Linked DNA regions of Homo sapiens: region 2 is linked to region 1. Evidence: fine-mapped expression QTL. Tissue or cell type: blood mononuclear cells. Region 1 holds a variant in brackets; the other region holds the start of a gene. All regions are shown on one strand. Distances are from middle to middle. Region 1 overlaps TBC1D5 (TBC1 domain family member 5). Region 2 holds the start of TBC1D5 (TBC1 domain family member 5).

Evidence for each region. PIP is the estimated chance that this variant, and not a neighbour inherited with it, causes the effect.
Region 2: it holds the start of TBC1D5, and the variant in region 1 is fine-mapped to the expression of TBC1D5 in blood mononuclear cells (TOPMed, PIP above 0.99). The same link has a PIP of 0.9 or more in T cells and whole blood.

What each region holds. Positions count from the first base shown.
Region 1 is chr3:17,604,772-17,607,686 of GRCh38, forward strand. All of the region lies in intron 2 of TBC1D5 (TBC1 domain family member 5), which reads right to left. Among named protein-coding and RNA genes, the nearest start is that of TBC1D5, 140 kb to the right of the region's middle. The variant G/A (reference allele first, on the strand shown) is at 1,393.
Region 2 is chr3:17,741,130-17,744,044 of GRCh38, forward strand. It overlaps TBC1D5 (TBC1 domain family member 5), which reads right to left and starts at 1,502. Exons shown (of 23, transcript NM_001349074.2): 1 at 1,352-1,502. It overlaps LOC105376975 (a long non-coding RNA gene), which reads left to right and starts at 1,815. Exons shown (of 2, transcript NR_135536.1): 1 at 1,815-1,989. RefSeq lists silencers at 989-1,188, 1,419-1,728 and enhancers at 1,188-1,891, 1,849-1,918.

The sequences.
Region 1 (2,915 bases):
TCAAGCAATTCTCATGCCTCAGCCTCCTGAGTTCCTGGGACTACAGGTGCATACCACCACACCCAGGTAATTTTTGGTATTTTTAGTAGAGACAGGGTTTCACCATGTTGGCCAGGCTGGACTCCAACTCCGGGCCTCAAGCGATCCACCTGCCTCAGCCTCCCAAAGTGCTGGGATTGCACGTGTGAACCACCGCACCCAGCCAGATCCATGATATTTTGAATTCAACTTAGTCTCAGGCTTCCATATCCCCAAAATATCCATCTTTACATTGGTACAGTTCTCTTCTGGGATAATGTTCTTCAACAAAAAACAACTCTCTTTGGAGCAAAACCTCCTCTTCACAAAGCAGCTAGGCTGCATTTCCTAACAGACAAGCCTTCTCCAACTCATACAATCACCAATCTCAGGTTGTCTTTGCATGAATGAGTGACTCATCAACATGGTTTTTTTTTAAAGGAGTCAAGCTCCTAAGCCACAATAAGTATTAGTCACATAGTATTAACTACTTTTACTAAACCACACAATTAAAACAAACACAAGCAAATTTATAATACCCTAGAGACCATATACATCAGAAAACCCTACAATTTTTCAGGACCTCAAATCTTAGCTGAACTCAGTCATAAGTAATGTGTTGAATTACATGTAATAAAAATGTCTAGTTCAACCTGGCATTTTTAGCAACTAGAATGCTGCTCAGCAGCACCTGTGATTTTCAGAACTTAAAGTGCAAATTTAATCATCCCACAAACGTTAAATTGTGTTTGAAAGAGTTTGGGCAGTAGGAACAAATATTTAAAAAGAGGAAAAGGATAGTCTTTTTTAGTAACCAGAAAATTTGATCATGCAGGAAAACAAAGTTCACCTAAGCTTCATTTTATCTACTTCTATGATTAAAGATCAGGAAAGTATGCTTCATTTTTAGGAAGCATACCAGTAAATATTAACACATATATATTAACATGCTCAATTGTGACCGACAAATATTATGAGACTTCTAAGTTTAAGGGGGAAATAAAGACTTTGTTAATATCCAATAATGCAATACAGAAATTATATTTATGTTATGTGTAATAAATGTTTTCATAATATTGAATAGACTTTTTCATACAAAGATGAAGACCCATTCACCAAATTACTGACTTCTGTATTATACTCTGAAAAAAATCAATAAATCATTTAAGCTTGCTCTCTAGTTCTAGACACATTTATTTTGCAAGTTGGCCTGTCTAAATTGTGATAGACTAGAACGCAAATAAAGTAGGTCTCTCATTTCATGACTACTCTACTGCCCACACCTCCCCTTCTCCTGATAAAGTCAATCAGAAGCTCCTGAGAAGAGTCTAATTTTTACCAAAAATATTTTCACCACAAGTATTTTAGGGCTGC[G/A]TACAGTGGCTCATGCCTGTGATATCAGGCACGTTGGGAAGCCAAGGAGGGAGGATCGCTTGAGCCCAGGGAGTTCAAGGCTAGCCTGGGCAACATAGAGTGACACCAGCTCCACAAAAAAATTAAAAAATTAGCCATCCATGGTGGCATGCGCCTGGGGTTCCAGCTATTCAGGAGGCTGCTGGGAGGATTGGGAGGATTGCTTGAACCCAGGAATGCGAGGCTGCAGTGAGCGGTGATTGCACTGCACTCCAGTCTGGGCAACAGAGTGAAACCCCGTCCAAAAAAAGAAAGTATTTTTATTTTCTTTTACTCAAACCTTTGGCTATCTGTAATATATATAAAGCAAGAATAGTGTAATTAATGATAATGCAAAAGAAAAGTAATAATGATACTGGTGACTTTTTATAACAATTTTTAGAATATATAAATAAAAATTAGCAGCATAAGAAATGCTTAATTCAATATAATTAAATATGAGAGAATATCCTTCAGGAGAGAAAACTTAAATATAGCATTTTATAATATTAAACCTTTACAAGGTTCAGTTCATGGGTTTTTAAAATTGTTTTGTTAGGATCAAATTATACACTTTGACAAAGAGGTCATTTCTATACTGAAAAACAACAACAACAACAACAAATAACCAAAAGCCAGTAAATAATATCAAAACTCCCAAAAAACGATCCTGATGCACACCAACAGCTTCAGATAAGACAGAAAATCCCAGCTCAAGATAGGTCTTGCAACATAATGAGAGGAAAAAAATGATAAGAAATGGCTTAATCAAATTCCTTTACAATAATTAGTTCGATTTTACCAAAGAGAATAATTAGCCATGGTTTAAACTAACCAGATATATATATCTGCTGTAACTATTAGATTAAAATCAGTGATTTTCCAGAATATCTCCTTTGAAAGTAGTATGCAGATAACATCTCATAGAATAAAGATGATCTAAAAACTCAGATGACCATTTACCAAAAATAATTGTTAAACCTTCATTATGTACAAGAAATTAAAGGTAGTATTAGATGAACGTAATACAATCCATCAATACAAATTGCAGTTTAAAATATTTTCTCAATAATATCTAATGTGTACAGCAAAAAAAAATTAACAAAAATATCCTTATATAGCAGTGAATAAAATTGGAATAAAATCCTTTTTAGAGCTTTATATAATGACCTGTGGTAGCTTGCAGTCTCCCTCCAGCTTTTACTTCCAACTCAACATAAATTTGAATCCAAATTATCAATCTTTCTGTCCTCATTCTGGTAACTTAATACACCTGGATCTAACTATAAATGTTATTTTCTTTTTGTATTTGAAACCTGCAGTTCTCAGAGATTGCGAAGGAAACAAATCAAGGTTGAGCTTAAAGAAAAAAAAAAAAAAGCTTCAGTACAGTTGCAAATTCATAATGGGCCCTTTTAGTCCCCTATTCAGCATAATTCCTGCTGACTTCTGAAGAGATGCAATTCCTTGCCCCCGCCAATACCCCCCAAAAACACACAAACACA
Region 2 (2,915 bases), 140 kb after region 1:
AAGATAGTCCCTTGTCCAGCTGCACATGTTATCAGAAATGTACAATATCAAAATGCACCATAGGCCTACTGAACCAGAAAATGCATTTTTAATAAGAGCCCCAAGTGATTCCCACCCACATTAAGGTTTGAGTGTTCTGTGATACTGCAGATAGCTGTAAAAATTAAAAATGCTCAAGTTTACAAATGAATTCAGAGATATGGTATGAAAAGTACCAAGACACGGAATCAGAAAAGCCCAAAGAGAAAAACCAATATATAAATGAATTTCTTTGCCACCGATAGCAAAGGCTCATTTTTCAACAATACCTATTTATTGCTTCCTGCTTTAAGTATTTTGTGCAAGAGCACAACACTTATAAAGGTTTACAAAAGAATTACCGGGTCTAGAAATTCCAGGCAACCTGGTCCAAACGTGTGAAACCTGCATGTTAAAATCTTAGGATTTTGTCCAATTCAGAGTTGACAAATGAACTCTTTCCAGAAAGTTATTATTCGAAAAAAACCTACAGGATGTTAACTTTAAACACAGATTATAATTCCTGTAACTAAAACGAGTAACTGGTATCGAACAAATTCTAGGTCACTTGTAGAATCGAATCTTGTAGTGAAGGTCTGTGTGTTTTTCCAGGAAAAGTCGGGGTGGGGAGCGGGATTTGCCCTCCCTGCGAATTTTTTTTTTTTTTTTTTTTTTTTTTTTTTTGCTCTTATCCTGAAAGACCTCCGTTTCTTACGTGTGAATAAACTTAAGTCGTACTAAATCCAGGTCACGGTTCCCTTCCTCAAAAGTGAAGTCAAGGCTTCTCTCTTCTAAAGACTATTAAGGTTTGAGGATTCAGGGCCCGTTTCGCTTCCGGCTAGGGAAGGAAGCGTGCTTCCCGGGGCCCAAATGAACATGGAAATTTACTAAGTAGGAAGTTGAGCACTAGTCCAGCCGCCAGGCCCTGCCTTTACTGCAGTTGGCCTTCCAGTCTAGACCCCGACCTCCTGGGGCAGGGAAAGCAGGCAGACTGCAAGCAGCCACCCCGCCCAGCTCGCCCTGCCCGCCCTGCCCGCCAGGGAGCTGAAGGGTCCACCCCTCCCGCCATCCACCCCCGACGCCGACTCCGAGGCGCACAAACGGGGGGCGGTGCGGCAACCCGTCCGCCGTGGCGGCGGCACCCTCAGGCCCTCCCGTGAGAAGGCGGCGGCGGCTGCGGCTGCAGCAGCGGCGCGAAGGGGGGCGAAACCTGTCCTGAGGCTGAGTGGGAGGCCGGGGCGGGAACGACTGCATGTGGGGCTGCACTGGAGGAAGGCGGAGGCGTTCAGAGGGCTTGGGCTTTTTTACGATCATCATCATTATTTTATTTTACCTGTGGCGCAGAAGGGCTCCCCAGCTCCTATTCCCTGAATCCTCCTCCTCCTCCCCTCCTCTTTCTCTCTCTCTCCCTCAGTCTGCAGGGCGCTCGCGGAAGCGGCCGGGCCCGGCCCGACCTGAAAGAGAACAGGGCGGGAGGGGGTGGCGGCGGTGACCAGCGGCCACGTGACCACGCTCGCGCCGTAACGGCGGCCGCCTCCCGCCGCGCGCCCTCCCCGCGCTCCACCTCTAATAACCTCGCGGCCCGCGCGCCTGGGAAGCTCGTGCGCAGGCGCCCGCACGGGACCTGAAGTCTGCGCGCGAGCGCAACGCGCTCGCTCTCGGGTCCGGGTTTCTGGGGCCCGCGAGGCGCGAGAAGCGAGTAGGTGGGGAGTGAGCCGCGGGCAGAGCTCTCCTTGGCTGAGCCGGCAGGCTGCTGAGCGCATGCGCCTGAGGGCTTTTACCCCTCCCTTCTCTCCCTGCTTCCAACCGGCGCGCGGCTGGAGGCTGGGAACCAGCTCCTGGGTCTTAGTCAGAGGTTCACATCCACCAACTATCTTCCCAGGGTTGGACTGAGAAGGGGAGCAGAGGGTCCCAGGGACTCTCCTGAGATCCTGGCTCTCCTGCCAAGGAATTTACATTTCCTTGTCACAGGTAAATGGCCTTCCATGCCACATTTTTCTGTGGCTGAGTAGGCTTCTAACTCAGCTCATCTGTCACTTTCTCCGTGAAACTTACCCCTGCCTACTTTAGAGGAGTCACTAGCACTTTGTGCAGACCTACCTTGTAGTACAACCCATAGAAAGATAAAGGTTAGGAGTTATTTTTTCACAAGCCCACAATACTAGACTGTGGTTTCTATCTTTATCTCATAAACTTGGACAGGGTCTTCAGTGTTGTAGTATCTCCCTAAACGTCTGATGACTATCAGAACACAGGGAATGTCTAAAACTTTTATCGTTGCCCTTGGTCTCTGCATAATCATGATTTAAGATCCCCTTTAACCCAAGCACGTGGGAAGGTGGTGTTTGTTTCCCCAGTATGAAAGCCTTTAAATCATAATGTTAATTAGAGTGGTAAATGCTTCACTTAGTAAAAGAGATTTATGGTATTTTATTAGCTTATCTTCACAAAGAGCTCCAACGAAAATTGATACTGTTTAGTCCAGAAAAGGAAACCAAGTCAGAGAAAGGTCAGATTTCTGAAGGTTATCTAGCTTCAGAGGAAGATGCCTGTGTGGGAGACCTTTGTGGACAAACACCCCACTTCACACAGAGATCCCTCTTTTTCTGTTGCCCCTCTTTCTGTTGCAGAAACTGAACAGGTTAAGTTAGTGCCTGTGGCCAGATTTAATCCGGCCAGATTTATTTATTTATCAAATAAATAAAATGTAAAAACTCCCTAATTGGGAGTTCTGGCTAGACCAGTCATCATCACTGTTAGACTGGTGAATACTGAGATGATAGTCAAGAAATGGGGCTAGCAACAAAATGACAGAAAATCCTGGGATGAATGTATATGAAGAAATAGGATTAACAGAGGCTTCTGAGAAACTAGGAAAATGACAACCCTCAAGATTC